3 linked regions of the Homo sapiens genome follow. The protein of the gene in region 1 interacts with the protein of each later gene in a biochemical or structural test. Each region holds a gene or a part of one and is shown on either strand. Other genes may lie near its edges.

Region 1 (3,568 bases):
ACTCCCGATCTTAGGTGATCCACCCACCTCGGCCTCCCAAAGTGCTGGGATTACAGGCATGAGCCACTGTGCCCAGCCGAGGTCTTTTTTTTTTAATTAAACAAAATAATAAGAGTGAATCCAACCAGAAGTTATGGTTAAATAAATCCTGGTATATCCATGAAGTAGAATACTGCTTGGCCACTGAAAATGAATTAAATATTATACAAAAACACCTTGGGAGAATCTTCATGACAGAGTAGAAGAAAGAGTGTTAGCAAATACTAGGTATACTTAATATATCTGCAATATTTATAAGTATGTGTATTTGCCACAATTGTAACTGGGGTTATTTCTGGGCGATGTGATTACTGGTTATTTTTCTTTTCTCATGCATTTATGCATGCACACGCAATGAAGGCGTGTGTGTGTGAACCTCTATATTTTCCAAACTTTCTGTCATAATCATGCATTACTTTTGTAATTAGAAAATGCAACTTAACAAGAAATAAATGCGACACCAGTGAAAACACTTAAATAGAATTTATATAAATTTATTAATTTATTTTTAGTTGTAGGAAACATCAGAAAAAAAGTAAACTTGCCCAGCACTTCATAGCTGTATTTTGGGTTTTTATCAAATTCAGCTCCATTTGACATAAGCAATGATTATCTTCTCAAATACACCACCCACCAATTTCATAGCATCATTCTTTTTCCCCAAAGCAAGAAATCATATGCTGTTCTCAGTGCACTCCAAGCCATTCATTCATTTCACCTACACTCTAAAGGTACAAAGCTTCCCTTCTTTAAACACACAAGGTGGCACCTATGAAGCACGACAGAGATGAGGACTGACCATTATTGGTTAAGGATCAATTGCAACCATCTGCAGAAGCCAAAAGATAAGATTAAAACTGCCATTTGCAGTAGGGGCAGCCGTGGGACCACCTTTGAATCCCGCACTCCCAAACAGGCCATGTTTCAGAGTAAGAAAAGTAATCTAGAATGCCAGCCTGTCTGCACGTCCTCTGAAAAATGGCACATGTCATCCTGATCAAAGACACCAGAGGGGGCACGATACATATTCAAATATCTTTACTGACTAGCGAGTCTATTATTTTTATTTAAGAGAATTTTTTAAAGCACTCTGGGGCTGATTAATTTATGCAAAGTATTTCCTTAATAAGAATAAAATGAATTTAACACTGATTCTGTTTTCAAGTTTGGAAATGACTAGGGAATGGTTCAAAATTTTACCTTATTTCCCACCCACTTCTCAATGGGTCTTGGATTTGTGGGCTTTCTTAACTCGCCCTTTTTTCCCCAAGCATTTCCGGTAGCCATAAGCACAACATTTAAAGGTGATGAAGGCCACTGTCAGCACGACGGCCAAGAGGAAACCAATCACGTCCAAGGAATGGTACTGGTACCAGGTGAGGTCGTGGGCTGCGGGGCGCAGGTGTGGCGCGCCCTTGTGCCTCATCACAAACTCCACCCAGAACACGGCCAGGTCCAGCGGCTCCACCGGGCGGTCCTTGTGAAGGCTGGAGAGGCGCATGATGTTCTCCTTGTAACTAAACACAAAGACAGTTTCGTTATGCCTGGAACACCTGTGGTATGAACAATCCTCTCTTTATGCTCATGGCTGCTTAAGAAGACTACCAGATTTTCCAAACTTGGGAAAGGAAACCTGTTTCTATTATTGTTGTTGTTGTTGTTTTTAGATACAGAGTCTTGCCCTGTTGCCCGGGCTGGAGTGTAGTGGCACAAGCATGGCTAACTGCAGCCTCCAACTCCTGGGCTCAAGCCATCCTCCTGCCTCAGCCTCCAGAGTAGCTGGAATTAGTCATGCACCACTATGTCTGGCCAATTTTTAAATTTTTTGTAGAAACAAGGTCTTATTGTGTTGCCCAGGCTGTGTTACTATTATCACCTGAAAGGTTATAATTAAGAAACTTATTCTTAATAAATGTTATTGATCTCTTGAAAAAGAAGGAAGAGAAGGAGGGAAGGAAGCAAGGAAAGGAGGAAGGGAGGGAGGGAGGGAGGGAGAGAGGAAAGGAGAGAGGGACGGAGGAAGGAAGGGAGAAAAAGAAAGACCAAAATTATATTTTAGAAATATTTTAACCTTGCTTCCTACTCTTCTTCTTTTCTTTTTAGTGATATTTTGTGAGAAATTTCATTATATTTTCATACAGTAAAATAAAGAAAGGAAAATGTCACGTCAGAAATTATGAATAGTCTCCTATTTGAAGTTGTAAACAACCACCTCTGGCCAAATTAACAGCCATTTGTAAGTGCCAAATCCAAGGTGATGATATATTTGTAATTCAGTCATTGAAACATTAAACTATCTGGGTGCTAGATTTAGCATGAGGCAGGGTCTGTGCAGCCACTTAGTGCAAAATGGATTTCTGTTTATTCTGGACAGTGTTCATTGCCCAATCAGAACATCTCAATCCAAAACGGGTTAGGTGCTTCAACCCTTGGTGCTACAGGAATGAAGAGGAGATTGAAGAGGAGAGGGAAAAGGAGGAGGAAGTAGAAAAGAAAAGGGAGAAGAAAGAAAAAAAAAGGCACTCCTATTCAGGACTAATTATGATCGCTGTTGACTGATACAGTTTGGATATTTGTCCACACTCAGATCTCATGTTGAATTGTAATCCCCAGTGCTGGAGATGGGGCCTGGTGGGAGGTGTTTGGATCATGGGGTCGGATCCCTTGTGCTTTAGTGCTGTCTTCCTGATAGTGAGTTTTCATGAGTTATTGTGAGAGCCGGTCATTAAAAAGTGTGTGGCACCTTCCCCCCCAACTCTCTCTCGCTCCTGCTTTTGCCATGTGACATGCAAGCTCCCGCATTGCCTTCTGCCATGAGTAAAAGCTCCCTGAGGTTCCCCCGGCAGCCAAGTGATGTCAGCACTAAGCTTCCTGTACAGCCTGCAGAAACACGAGCCAATGAAACCTCTTTTCTTTATAAATTACCCAGTCTTGGGTATTTCTTTACAGCAATGCAAGAACAGCCTAATACACTGTCTTTAAACATATCTATAATGTTATTTGGAAACATTATTATAATGTAATATTAGTACTTGGCCATGAATCATGTTAAATATCATCTTCCTTTTACATAAACCTTAAGATGAATTTTCTTGGAACCTTCTTTTTTTTTTTTTTAAGTAAGACGGAGTCTCACTCTGTCGCCCAGGCTGGAGTGGAGTGGCACAATCTCAGCTCACTGCAACCTCCGCCTCTCAGGTTCAAGTGATTTTCCTGCCTCAGCCTCCCAAATAGCTGGGATTACAGGCATACACCACCATGCCTGGGTAATTTTTTTATATTTTTTTGGTAGAGATAAGGTTTCTTCATGTTGGTCAGGTTGGTTTCGAACTCCTAACCTCAAGTGATCCACCTGCCTCGGCCTCCCAAAGTGTTGGGACTACAGGCATGAGCCACCGTACCTGGCCAGAACTTTCATTCATTCATTCAATAGTAATTGAGCACCTATTATGGCCTGGTTGTCAGCATAAACTGATGTTTGAAAATTTTCCACTTCTTTTTATTTTGTGTAGGCACTATCCCCAGCTCA
Region 2 (7,037 bases), on another chromosome or scaffold:
ATAGTATTTCATATAACCGATGTACATCTTCCCATACACTTTAAATCATCTTTAGATTACTTATAATATCTAATACAATGTAGAAACTATATAAATCGTTCTTGTGCTGTTTTTTTGGTTTTGTTTTTTGAGACAGAGTCTCACTCTGTCGTCCAGGCTGGAGTGCACTGGCTCGATCTTAGCTCACTGAAACCTCCACTTCCTGAGTTCAAGCGATTCTCCTGCCTCAGCCTCCCGAGCAGCTGGGATTACAGGTGTCTGCCACCATGCCCAGCTAATTTTTGTATTTTTAGTAGAGACAGGGTTTCGCTATGTTGGCCAGACTGGTCTTGAACTCCTGACCTCAGATGATCCGCCCACCTCGGCCTCCCAACGTGCTGGGATTACAGGCATGAACTACCACACCCGGCCTGTGCTGTATATTTTATTTGTATTATTTTTTATTATTATTTCAAAATTATTTTTAACCTGCAGTTGATTGAATCTGCAGAGGTGGAACCCGTGGATACAGAGGGCCAACTGTACTGATACCAAAGGTTCCAGTGGGAAGAGCAGCTGGTCATCCGGCTCTCAGTCTAGGACTATTACTGACAGCCTAGCACTTGCGTGCAAGTGGCTAGCAGACTGGGTGTTAACATGCTGAAAAAAGTTTAAAGTTATAAAATACTTAGGAGTATTAGAAAACTAACACTTCCTAAGTTACTGAAGGAATCCTGAAACACAATTTATATCTTTTCACGACATCAGAAATCATTTCTAATGGTTGGCCATTAGGAAACCAAATCAATAACCAATTTAAGAAGGTAGAGATCATACAATAGAAGAAAAAGCATCACTGAATATAAATATCACCATCATCTTCATTAAAGGATTTTTTGCCATAAAGATGCAAATAATTCAGAGGAGCCATTCCCTTTCTCAGGGCATGAACCCCACTGAGAAAGAAATGGACTGAAAGCTATCCACAGCCATCCTAGGGATCCACAGACACAGCGTAAAGTTCCCTGGGCCATGTTATTTCATCAAAGTACAACCTTAGCTCTAAACACTAACTCTGAAAGAACAGCAGTATGTATATAACTCTGAAAGAACAGCAGTATGTATAAAATATTTACTGAGGAGAAAAAACTAGTTTTGCCTAACTTCGAAGGTAATAATTTACAGTGATTTAAAATAACCACCTGAGATTTTTTTACAGCATATATTATTATTATTATTATTTATTTTTTGAGATGGAGTTTCACTCTGTTGACCAGGCTGGAATGCAGTGGTGTGATCTCAGCTCACTACAACCTCAACCTCCCGGGTTTAAGTGATTCTCCCATCTCAGCCTCCCAAGTAGATGGGACTACAGGTGTGTGCCACCACGCCTGGCTAACTTTTGTATTTTTAGTAGAGATGGGGTTTTGCCATGTTGGTCAGGCTGGTTTTGAACTCCTGACCTCAGGTGATCTGCCCACCTCAGCATCCCAAAGTGCTGGGATTACAGGTATAAGCCACTGCACCTGGCCCATACTTAACAGCAAATATGATTAAAATTAATAAATATACAAATACTCCAGGGATTTACTAGAATAAAAGCCATGGTGCTTTCTAAGCCCAAACTGTGGTTACAAATGTCATTAAAAACCTAACTTAATAAATAAGAGAAGAAAACAAAAACCATAGTTAAGGACAATAATTCTCCTTGTGTGCACATTAAATGTGTATGCCTTTTCTCCAATTTAAAAACAAAAAGAAATTAATTAATTAATAATATCATCTTACCTCACCAAGATAAATGACAATTTGAAAGAAAGTATCCATCAGCAAAATTCTGTCAGCTAGAATGCTGCTGCTATCCAAGAGTACTGGCTGAAGAAAAAGAGAGAGAAAGATGGCATTGGTCTTCCCTGCTCCCCACACAGCAACCACTTCCACCCGACCCTGATCCCATGCCTGGTATCCACAGCAAAGGCTATTTACAAATGGTGCCCAGCACAGTAAGTCACCCCTTTTCTTCCTGACATACTTCCACTTTCTGCTTCTGACTCATTCTCAACTTTGTAGGAAAAATAGGCTCCAAATAATTCCTCATCAATTGAGAACGGAGATTAATGATACCTTTTTTTTTTTTAAGAGTCAGGGTGTTGCTCTGTTACCCAGCCTGGAGTAAAGTGATGTGACCCTGGCTCACTGCAGCTTCGACCTCCTGGGCTCAAGTGACCCTCCCACCTCAGCCTCCTGAGTAGCTGAGGCTACAGGTGCATGCCACCACGCCCAACTAATTTTTTATTTTTTGTAAAGACAGGGTCTCACACTATGTTGTCCAGGCTTAATGATATCTTTTGATCTTGGAACGAAAAATAATTCTGAATATTCTCAGTTTTGTATGTATTTTAGCAATCTCTACAGACATTCTCTGTAGATGAGACAGAATACGGATACCTATATGAAAAGCAGCATTTAATACAAGTTTTTAAAGTTTACTACAAAATATAAATTATGGCTGGGCGTAGTGGCTCATGCCTGTAAACCTAGAACTTTGGGAGGCCAAGGCAGGCAGATCACTTGAACCCAGGAGTTCAAAGCCAGCCTGGGCAACATGGCAAAACCCCATCTCTACCAAAAACACAAAAAATTAGCCGGGCTGTAGTGGCACGTGCCTGTGGTCCCAGCTATTCAGGAGGCTGAAGTGGGAGGATCACCTGAACCTGGAAGGCGGAGGTTGCAGTGAGCCAAGATCGCACAACTGTACTCCAACCTGGGTGACAGACACCCCATCTCAAAAAAAAATACGTTTATTATTTATTTGTAAGTAATATTTTATATTATATAAGTATATAATTTATATTTATATATACATATATAATCATATACATATATATTTATATACATAGTTCTTATATATACATATATAATTTATTATATTTACATATACACATATAATTTTTATATATGTAATTATTTCTTTTTTATTTTTATTTTTTGAGAGGGAGTCTTGCTCTGTTGCCCAGGCTGGAATGCAGTGGCGCGATCTCAACTCACTGCAGCCTCCGCCTCCGGGGTTCAAGTGATTCTCCAGCCTCAGCCTCCCAAGTAGCTGGGATTATTGGCGCCATTCCAAGCTAATTTTTGTATGTTTAGTAGAGATGGGGTTTCGCCACATTGGCCAGGCTGGTCTCAAACTCCTGATGTCATGTGATCCCCCTGCTATTTTAGTAATTATTTCAATAATAAAAGTAAGTGGTACTCGATAAAGAAAATTTTTAAATGTGTACCCAAGTACAACAAATATTGATATTTTGTTTTTTTCCATATAGTTCTTTATTTTTGCAGGGAATATTTAGAAACGTTTCTATTTTGACTTTTTTTCATGTAACATTTTTACATAAGGACTTATCTATTTTATTATGTTACATACTTTTTGTGAATACTGTTGGCCCTCCGTATCGGTGGGTTCCACATCTATAAATTCAACCAATCTTGGACTGAAAATATTTGAAAAAAATATGCATCTGTACTGTACATGTACAGACTTGTTTTCTTGTCATTATTCCCTAAACCATACAGTATGACAATTATTTACATGGTACTTACATTATATTAGGTATTATAACTAATCTAGAGATGATTTAAAGTATATAGGAGGATGTGCCAAGGTTACATGCAAATATTATGTAATTTTATATTAGTAACTTGAGTATCTAAGAATTCTGGTATCTGAGGGAGGTCCTGGAACCAATCTTCCATGAATACTGAGGGTCAACTGCATTTCTCAGGTTACTTATTTATTTTCCTATATTAAACATTCGGATTGTTATTTGATCCTCTATTATAGTAGTTCCTTTACTATTTTTTTTTTTGGCACAAAGTCTACTCTGTATCTAGGAGTCTTTCCTTCAGATACAAGACATGGAATTGTTGGATGTAAGTATACAAGCACAAGGAAAAAGAAAGCATCCAAGTTATTTCCTAGAGTTTTTTACATTTATTCCTGCCTTTCACAAATAATAGCTTTATATGTCCTTTGACATTTTCCTAAAGGTATTTTTTAATAGAAATAATGTTAAATTACTATAAAAACTCCAAATTTTACTTCTTTTTTACAGTTCTGCTAAGTAAATTTGCTTAAAAAAGAATATATGTTAGGTGATTCCAATCCTCAGGAAAGCATTTGGGTAGAGCCTCACCTCTGGTGGCCCATGAAAGGAGTAAGAGTAGAGAATGGGCTGGATCATGATGAGGGACTGGGTCAGGTCCTGCCGGGCAAAATGATGTCTGTAATATGACGACTCATCAGGACTGTTGTTAAACACTTGAAGAAATGGAGATCTTCTCAGATGGAACATAAACTGCATTCACAAAGAACGGAAAGAGAAATGCATATAATTGTAACCTTCTTAGACACCCACAGAGTAGATCTACCTCAGGGCTCTGAAATAGGAGAACCCAGAAAAGGGCTCTCTGGTTTCACAGAACAGAAAGCATAAGGGGGCACCAGGGGCTAGGGAAAGAGGAAAACTGAGAGTTGTTGCTTAATGAGCACAGAGTTTCAGCTCTGCAAAGTGAAAAATTCTAGACATCAGTTGCTCAATAATGGGAATACACGTAACACTACTCAACGGTATGCTTAAAAATGGTTAAGATGGTAAATTTTGTTATGTGTGTTTTACCACATTAAAAATTAATTTTTTTTTTTAAAGGGCCTTTGGCCAGGCGTGGTGGCTCACGCCTGTAATCCCAGCACTTTGGGAGGCCGAGGCGGGCGGATCACCTGAGGTCGGGAGTTCAAGACCAGCCTGACCAACATGGAGAAACCCCGTCTCTACTAAAAATCCAAAATTACCCGGGTGTGGTGGTGGGCGCCTGTAATCCCAGCTACTCAGGAGGCTGAGGCAGGAAAATCACTTGAACCCAGTAGGGGGAGGTTGCGGTGAGCTGAGATCAGGCCATTGCACTCCAGCCTGGGCAACAAGAGCAAAACTCCGTCTCAAAAAAATTAAAAATTAAAAATTTTTAAAAAAATACAAAATTTTTTTAAGAAAAGGGCCTCTGGGTATGTCAAAGCTTCCACAGTTAAGAGGAAAGCCAAAGAAATGTTTATTTCCAGAGTCACTGTGCCAGGCAGTGGAGACAGAATATCTGCTCTCAGAAGTCAGGCCCAGTGAGAAAGGCACACTCGGGCTACGAGTTATGAGCCAGAGTACAGGATAGCAGTGGGGAGTGGGGGTGGAGGGCCAGGAGGAGACTTCCTAGAGCTCCGGGGACTGACAGTGCACCCTGAGAGACGTGGCTGAGGAGGCCACAGGGCCAGGGGGAAGGGGATTCCAGGCACAGGAACAGCAGATGACAGCTCAGGACACAAGCTGGGATGGTGAAGTGTTGGTGCAGGGGAGAAAGGGACAAGGGATGACACTGCAACCATAGGTTCTCGCCCTCGAGGATGAGAAGAAGGGGTGGGGGCAGACTTTCAGCTCACATTAAAGAGTTGCCAGAACACGAAAATGAGCTGCCTTGTGAAGTGTAAAGCTTCCTGAGACTCCAAATATTCAATCATAGGTTCCTAAATAATAATCAAGGCTGACATCTAATACATCCTACATGCAAGTCACAAAGCACTTGACAAGAACTATTTAATCCTTCCAATAAGCCCATGAGGTAAGTTCTCTTACCATCCCTAGTTTACAGGTGAGGAAACTGAGGCACAGAGGGGCGAGCAACTTGTCCAAGGTCACCCCACTACTGAGTGTCACAGCTGGACTCTACACCTGGCCGCCTGGCTCTAGAGACTGGGCTGTTGGCCTCTTTCCTAGAATGCCTTGACAGAAGGAATCTGAGAAAGCATTTCATCTGGTTTTCAAGCTGTGCTCTTAGAGTCTTCATCAAGTCCTCAGGGGCCCAGGGATGAGGGCTCTGGTGGGACCCAGTGTGGGGGTGGTACACAGGCACAACCAGAGAAGCACCAACTCTGTCTGCTTTATGTGCTGGCTTTTAAGGGCAGCTCCTCTCAAAGAAAGGATTCCATGGCTTTAAAAAAAAAAAAAAAAAAAAAAAAAACTGCAAACCACTTCACCAGACCAACTCCCCACTGCTAGAGGTGGGAAACCAAACTCTACGGGGCTTTGGAACCTCCTCTAAGGTCAGCCCCTGCGGAGCCAGCACTGGAACCTCAACCTGACTCTGGCCGGTCCAGGGCTCTTCTCACAACACCACACAGCTTTAACCTCTGGCACATGGACACCTCAGAGTCCCAGGCACCTGCTATGGAGCTAGGTCACATTTAGTGCTGAACAGGTTACTGGCATTGTGCTAAATATTTAATACTCAGTTGGCCTCAGCTCCTGTAATCCTTATAGACACCCATGAATTGTGCTCTATTTCCTAAGTTACAATGGAGACGGAAATTCATCTACTTCTCCTGCTCCTCTCTCTTGTCCAATGGCTTCCAAAGGCTTGGTTCATGCAGAGTGCAGTTACTTTCAGGAGCTGCTTATTGCTCACTCCTGGTTATGATGCACATAATAACCACAGACATATTATTAAATATTTGTTGTACTAACTGTGGTTTTGTTTTGTTATCTTCATCTCCATGTGTGCTCATTTTCTTGGTTTGTTGCTGAGGTAGCTGTTTCCCCAGAACTTCTACACATGAGAGATATTTTTTACGGCCTTATATCAATGATCCTATTTTGCCTGTTCATGAAAATGTATGCATGAGTTTTCTCCCCTCTGCATGTCATCTCTATCTTCTGTAGGGCGTAGGGTGCTGTCTTGCCTAGACACATATTCGACTTGGGTTGAACAATCTCTGTCACCTACAGACTGAGTCTCAACACATTAAAAAGTCTTCACTTTACCCTAAGAATAAAGTTAATTTCTATCAAAATTTATTGCTCTGTAGTTATTTTAGAAACATACATTACTTACCTGAGGATATAGAGAAAAGGAATCTGATAACCTAAAAGAAGTGGGGTCTTCTTTGTTATACTGTCCAAACTTTTGACACTATGGAAAGAAAATACCAAAAAACAAACAAACACACACAAAAAGAGAGA
Region 3 (7,037 bases), on another chromosome or scaffold:
GGCACAATCTTGGCTCACTGCAACCTCCGCCTCCTGGGTTCCAGCAATTCTCGTGTCTCAGCCTCCTCAGTAGCTGGGATTACAGGTGACTGCCACCATGCCCAGCTGATTTTTTTTATTTTAGTAGAGATGGAGTTTCACCATCTTGCCCAGGCTGGTCCTGAACTCCTGAACTCAGGCAATCTGCCTGTCTCGGCCTCCCAACATGCTAATATTACAGGTGTGAGCCACTGCACCTGGCCTCTGTGCCAACTTTTATTTATTTTTTTATTTTTTTGAGACGGAGTCTCACCCTGTCGCCCAGGCTGAAGTGCAGTGGTCTGATCTCGGCTCGCTGCAAGCTCTGCCTCCCGGGTTCACGCCATTCTCCTGCCTCAGCCTCCCGAGTGGCTGGGACTACAGGCACCCACCACTACGACCAGCTAATTCTTTTGTATTTTTTTTAGTAGAGACGGGGTTTCACCGTGTTAGCCAGGATGGTCTAGATATCCTGACCTCATGATCCACCCGCCTCATCCTCCCAAAGTGCTGGGATTACAGGCATGAGCCACCGTGCCCAGCCTGTGCCAACTTTTTTAAAATTAAAAGCTCCTCTGGGGTTAAGGGCTCCAATTTGCCAGCCACAATCCGATAGACTTCAGATGAAAAGAAAAGAAGAATTAGCTAAAGTCTTTGACAGGGAAGAGCAGTTTTTACATATCAGATTTTTTTTTTTGAGACAGTGTTGCTCTGTTGCCCAGGCTGAAGTGCAGTGGCGTGATCTTGGCTCACTGCAGCCTCTGCCTCTCGGGTTCCAGCAATTCTCCTGCCTCAGCCTCTCAGGCAGCTGGGATTACAGGCGCTTCCCACCACGCCCGGCTTATTTTTGTGTTTTTTGTAGCCTGGCTTATTTTTGTGTTTTTTGTAGAGACGGGGTTTCGCCATGTTGGCCAAGCTGGTCTCGAACTCCTGACCTCAGGTGATCTGCCCACCTTGACCTCCCAAAGTGCTAGGATTACAGGCATGAGCCACCACGCCCAGCCTATATCAGATTTATTAATATTATTATTATTTCTTGTCACCCAGGCTGGAGTGCAGTGGTGCCATCACAGCTCACTGCAGCCTCAACCTCCCAGGCTCAAGCGATCCTCCCCGTTCAGCCTCCCAAGTAGCTGACTACAGGTACATGCCACCACACCCTGCTAATTATTTCTGTATACACACAAGATTAGATTCAAAAAGCACAGCTCAGGAAAGAGTGGGAGCCACTGGTACCACAGAACACTACCCAGCTGACATGAGACCAAATATTGGTTATAAAGAAAAAACTCAACACATGACTCGGGAAGAACTGACGGCAGGAAGAGACACCTACAATCTTCCTATCTGACACAGACCCAAAACATGTAAAGCACAGTCAACAAGAGTTTTGATATTACAGGAGAAAATGTCTCTAAACTCCTACAATCCATCTCTTAAATAGAGACAGGGTCTTGCTATGTTGCCCAGGCTGGACCTGAACTCCTGGGCTCAAGGAGTCCTGCCTCAGCCTTCCAAATAGCTAGGACTACAGGCATGCACCACCATGCCTGGCTACAATACTTGTACTATAATGGGGATCAGCCATTAACTCAAATTTTCCCTTTCTCTGAGATTCAGCTTCTTCATCAGAGAAATGAGAGGCTTGACCTAGATCAGTTAAGGTTAATGCCTTTTTTGAGTTACAGCAGACCCCTTTGATAAACCAATTACATCTATGGACCTTATTCCCAGCAAAATACATTCACAAATTTTTTTATGATTTCATGGCTAGGCATGCTGGTTCCTACCTGTAATACCAGCACTTTGGGAGGCCAATGTGGGGACAAATAGCTTGAGCTCAGGAGTTTGAGGCCAGCCTGGGCAACATGGCGAAACCCTGTCTCTACTAAAAATACAAAAAAATTAGCTGGGCATGGTGGTGCATGCCTGTAATCCCAGCTATTCAGGAGGCTGAGGCATGAGAATTGCTTAAACCCCGGAGATGGAGATTGCAGTGAGCCAAGATCATCGCACCACTGCACTCCAGCCTGGATGACAGAGCAAGACTCTGTCTCAAAAAATATATATATAAATAAAAATAATTTTTTTATGATTTCAAAGAGTTCACAGAGCCGAGTTTAGAATTAAATGAGATTCTCTCTGGAGATAATAAGATGGTGTGGAGGGGGCAGGAAAAAGAGGGGAAATGAGTGATACTTTTGTAAACCACCCCCTCTACTCTACCTGGCATCCAGTAATGCTGGATAAATTCAATAAATGTGTGTGTGGCCTTCATAAATTAATAAATATGATTGAGAAAACTAACAGCCAGCAGGGGGAATAAAGGTCAGCAACCACGCTCCCTCCAGCTTTCTTTTTTTTTTTCCCTTTTTTTTTTTAAGACTGAGTTTCATTCTTGTTGCCCAGGCTGGAGTGCAATGGTGCAATCTCAGCTCACTGCAACCTCCACCTCCCAGGTTCAAGCGATTCTCCTGCCTCAGCCTCTCAAATAGCTGGCATTACAGGCACCCACCACCACACCTGGCTAATTTTGTGTTTTTAGTAGACAGGGCTTTGCCATGTTGGTAAGGCTGGTCTCGAACTCCTGACCTCAGGTGATCCGCCTGCCTCAGCCTCCCAAAGTGCTGGGATTACACGCGTGAGCTACCATGCCCAGCCACCTCCAGCTTTCAATGGCTGAATTTGATGACTGTGAAATGGGCAGGACAAAGACAACCAAACCCTAAGCTTTTTAGGAATGCAAAGTCTCAGGACCTTTCTCAAAACTCAGAAAGCCTGTCTGTTGGAAAATTTTTTTTTTTTGAGACGGAGTCTCACTCTGTCGCCCAAGCTGGAGTGCAGTGGCTCACTGCAACCTCCGCCTCCCGGGTTCACGCCATTCTCCTGCCTCAGCCTCCTGAGTAGCTGGGATTACAGGCGCGTGACACCATGACCGGCTAATTTTTGTATTTTTGGTAGAGACGGGTTTCACCATGTTGGTCAGGCTGGTCTCAAACTCCTGACCTCGTGATCCGCCCGCCTCGGCCTCCCAAAGTGCTGGATTACAGGCGTGAGCCACCGCGCCCGGCCTTGCTGGAGGATTTTTTACCCAGGGGTCACATAGTCCCTAATTCTTCAACTATCATGGAAGTGAAAGAATCACAGAAATGAGGGACAAAGCAGTACTGCTGGGAAGAGAGATGAACTGAATAAGGAGAAATCAGACTATACTCCAGACCTGAGGCCTGAGAGCACCATTAGAACATTCTGCCTTCTCAGTTTGGTAATCCAGGAGCCCTCACTTAAATAACACTCAGCAAAGGAAAAAAATCAAAAGGGGCTAGATCCATTCCTGATGAGTCCTGGGTCACGATTTGTATCATGATTTATCCCTTTACTCCCCCCCACATCTCCCTGCTTTTGCTCCTGAAAACAAAAAGCTAGTCTCTGAGAGACTGAATTGACAGACTCTGTGTTATCTTTCAGTCTATTTATGCCCCCAAATCAACCCCGAGGCAGAATTGCTCTATTCTCCTCTGGTTTTAGTCTCCCTCTAAAACCACACAACAGAAAAGGAGTTGCAGAAAATTAGTTGACCGAGCTATCCAGGGCAATTGGCTATGGATGGGATATCTGCATTGAGAGTGAGAAAATAGGCCGGGCGCAGTGGCTCACACCTGTAATCCCAGCACTTTGGGAGGCCAAGGCATGTGGATCACAAGGTCAGGAGTTCGAGGCCAGCTTGGCCAACATGGCGAAACCCCGTCTCTACTAAAAATACAAAAATTAGCCAGGCATGGTGGTGGGGGCCTGTAATCCCAACTACTCGGGAGGCGGAGGAAGGAGAATCGCTTGAACCTGGAAGGCAAAGGTTGCGGTGAGCCAAGATCATGCCATTGCACTCTAGCCTGGGCAACAAGAGCAAGACTCTGTCTCAAAAAAAAAAAAAAAAAAAAAAAAGAGTGTGAAAATAAAAAGCCAAATAAAAAAGCAGGCTTCATCTGCAGCATATATAACTTAGATTACACAACAGGAAGGACTTCCTGAAGAGATGGGTGTGGTCAAACACCAGAAGAGGTGACACAGGCTAGGGAATGTAAGGCCAGGAGAGATCCCCCTAATAATCTGATGTAAGGAAACCTATTCTGCCCAAAAACAGGAGGGACAGAATGTGAGAGGGCCCTTGCCAGCACAAGCATCTTACAAGTGCATGGACTCATTCTCTGAATCCATCTTCATCAGCTGTCCCCTGGGCACTCTGCCTTTCCTCTTCCTAATTACTCCAGCACAAGTGGGTACATAGGTACTGATTCTTTATCCCTGCTCCATCTGATTTGCTCCTCTAGTTTCCCTTTCCACAACCTGTTTTCTTGTCAACATCCAGACTCTAATCAAGCCATGTCAATGGAGTAAAGTAAGAAACAGCAGCAAGTATCTAGATAAAAAAGACCCTAAACCTGCCACTAGGCTCCGTCAAATACCTGGATAATTGCACTCATCCTCTGCCTCCCAAGGCAGACCTGGCTTCTCAAGGGTCTGGTTTTCCTCACATGGAGGCCCCCTCCTCCTCTTCTGACCATGTGACAGCTCCCCTAGATCTTTGATATAATTTATACCTTGCCAGGGACCAACTCTTTCCCACCACTGTGAAGAAGAGGGAAAAAATATATATAAATACGTCGGAAATCTATAACAAGGTCTTCTTGGAGGGCAAGACATGGGGAGAGTTAGAAGCAGCGTCAATTGCTCTTTGGGGGTTTTAGTTCAAGCCGAGGTCTGCTTCCAGCAATCAACCATTAAAACAAGCTGGCCAGAGTAACAGCACAGTTTATTCTGATCATTTAATTTGAAGTGTCAATAAATTAAACTTCAATCAATTAAACTAGGTGTGCAATAACCCAGATGGACACCCCGACACCAACATAATCACAATAAAAATTTTTATTGCTGCCAGGGACCTCACCGGGGGCAGTGCTGGCACTGCTCGCGCCCTAGCTGAGAAATATATCTCCACAGCGCAGGAATGAGGAGATTGCTTCTCCTAACAAAATGGAGGGGGCCAGGCACCAGCAAGGACGCAGCTGGGAGAGGGGCACAGGGGACTGCCAGGAACGAGATGGGAGTGCTTTAGGGGCTTAATGTAATTGATACCTTTGCCCAGAGCAGGGGGAGGGGGGCATTTAGGCCAAGTACCTCTACTGTTAGGGCCAAAGGAATTTAACAAAAGCCCCATTAAGATGATTCAGGAAGCAAAGGCCAAGGAGCAACATCAACCTTTAAAGTCATTGACATATTCTGCATAGTTTCCTCCTCCATACATACTCATATCCTTGTGCACTTTGGATGGCCTGATTTTTTAATGAGGCTTAGAATTTAGGATTTGGTTATGGTTTTAAAATATTAAGGTAAGACAAAGTACAGAATTAGAAGTCTAGTCTGTAAAGCACTGGAGAAGCACTCTGAAAGTGAATCCAGAGAGGATTAGGAAAAATAAAACCTATGAACAAAGATTTAAAGATCTAAACCGATACAGAATTCAGTTTTGTTTGTTTTTTAAGACAGAGTTTCACTTTTTGCCCAGGCTGGAGTGCAATGGCCCTCGGCTCACTGCAACCTCCGCCTCCCAGGTTCAAGCGATTCTCCTGCCTCAGTCTCCCGTGTAGCTGGGGATTACAAGCGCATGCCACCACGCCCAGCTAATTTTTGTATTTTTAGCAGAGACGGGTTTCACCATGTTGGTCAGGCTGGTCTTGAACTCCTGACCTCAGGTGATCCACTCACCTCAGGATTACAGGTGTGAGCCACCGAGCCCGGCCCGAGTAATTCAGCTTTAAAGAAAAAAAGTAAAGCAGGAAGGAGGAAGGGGAAATCCTTATCTTTAAGATTCCACAGGTTATTAATGGAGAATGGTGATCTGCAGAGATCCTCTTCATTCACAACTCAAAAAGCGAGAACCAGCAGATACAGCAAGAGAGAAGAAGCCAAGTCCAAAGATGCAGGCTGAGATCACTATTATTAAGCATTGGGAACTAAAAGAGATGAAAGGGTCTCTTTCCTTAGAGCCTAAGGAGACCTGAGAGAGATTAGACAAATCTGCTTGAAAGCTAGAGCTGGATTACTTAATTCAAGAAAGAAATGTGACCATGTGACCCACTGTAAAGTACCTAAAAGAAGGGAACTTACTGTTATTTAGAAATTCCACAATCAATGCAAACTTTGATCAACAGTTCTTCTTGACCCCCTGTAGCTTACCTGTCCCTTTTTCTCGACATCCTGCAGCTATGTATGTACCTTGTAGAGTTAAGGACAGAAGAATATGCTTTGATCAGATTGTCCCTAACCGCATTACATAGGTTTCCCATAACAAAGAACCAGTGTGGTTTTAAAAGCAAAGTCCAGGGTTACCTGATCAAGTTAGCAGGGATCTGTGAATGCAGCCTATTAGGCATAGATTAAAGCAAAAGAATAAGGAAGAAGCAGGCTGAAACAGACTTCACTGAAGAAGCAGAGACAGAGAACTAAGGGAAGAGAAATGTGACAGAGAGACTTTCTTTTTCTTTAACTTTTCTGAGACAGAGCCTTGCTCTGTCACCCAGGCTGGAGTGCAGTGGCGCATCTCGGCTCACCGCGACCTCTGCCTCCCAGGTTCAAGTGATTCTCTTGCCTCAGCTTCCTGAGTAGCTGGGATTACAGGCGTGGCCACGCCCAGCTAAGTTTTGTATTTTTAGCAGAGACCGGGTTTCACCATGTTGGTCAGGCTGGTCTCCAACTCCTGACCTCGTGATCCGCCCACCTCGGCCTCCCAAAGTGCTGGATTTACAGGCGTGAGCCACCGTGCCCGGCCTTTTTTTTTTTTTTGAGATGGAGTCTAACACTGTCGCCTGGGCTGGAGTGCAGTGGCGCGATCTCGGCTCACTGCAACCTCTGCCTCCCTGGCTCAAGTGATTCTCCTGCCTCAGCCTCCTGAGTAGTTGGGACTATAGGCTCGTGCCACCACGCCCAGCTATTTTTTTTTGTATTTTTAGTAGAGACATGGT

What was found. The genes of interacting proteins can lie anywhere in the genome.
Region 2: the proteins of UGT1A1 (region 1) and SEC23B interact in a test that uses a peptide from one of them, tested with the Homo sapiens proteins (one study listed by BioGRID).
Region 3: the proteins of UGT1A1 (region 1) and COPZ1 interact in a test that uses a peptide from one of them, tested with the Homo sapiens proteins (one study listed by BioGRID).

The regions. Positions count from the first base shown.
Region 1 is NC_000002.12:233,770,250-233,773,817, reverse strand, and holds the end of UGT1A1 (UDP-glucuronosyltransferase 1A1 precursor), read right to left. Parts: intron 1,557-3,568; coding exon 1,259-1,556; 3' UTR 518-1,258; downstream 1-517. Other genes in the region: UGT1A3 (UDP-glucuronosyltransferase 1A3 precursor), read right to left, coding at 1,259-1,556; UGT1A4 (UDP-glucuronosyltransferase 1A4 precursor), read right to left, coding at 1,259-1,556; UGT1A5 (UDP-glucuronosyltransferase 1A5 precursor), read right to left, coding at 1,259-1,556; UGT1A6 (UDP-glucuronosyltransferase 1A6 isoform 1 precursor), read right to left, coding at 1,259-1,556; UGT1A7 (UDP-glucuronosyltransferase 1A7 precursor), read right to left, coding at 1,259-1,556; UGT1A9 (UDP-glucuronosyltransferase 1A9 precursor), read right to left, coding at 1,259-1,556; UGT1A10 (UDP-glucuronosyltransferase 1A10 precursor), read right to left, coding at 1,259-1,556; UGT1A8 (UDP-glucuronosyltransferase 1A8 precursor), read right to left, coding at 1,259-1,556.
Region 2 is NC_000020.11:18,545,906-18,552,942, reverse strand, and holds part of SEC23B (protein transport protein Sec23B), read right to left. Parts: intron 6,988-7,037; coding exon 6,910-6,987; intron 4,335-6,909; coding exon 4,173-4,334; intron 1,855-4,172; coding exon 1,768-1,854; intron 1-1,767. UniProt on the Homo sapiens protein: Component of the coat protein complex II (COPII) which promotes the formation of transport vesicles from the endoplasmic reticulum (ER).
Region 3 is NC_000012.12:54,328,097-54,335,133, reverse strand, and holds part of COPZ1 (coatomer subunit zeta-1), read right to left. Parts: intron 1-7,037. UniProt on the Homo sapiens protein: The coatomer is a cytosolic protein complex that binds to dilysine motifs and reversibly associates with Golgi non-clathrin-coated vesicles, which further mediate biosynthetic protein transport from the ER, via the Golgi up to the trans Golgi network.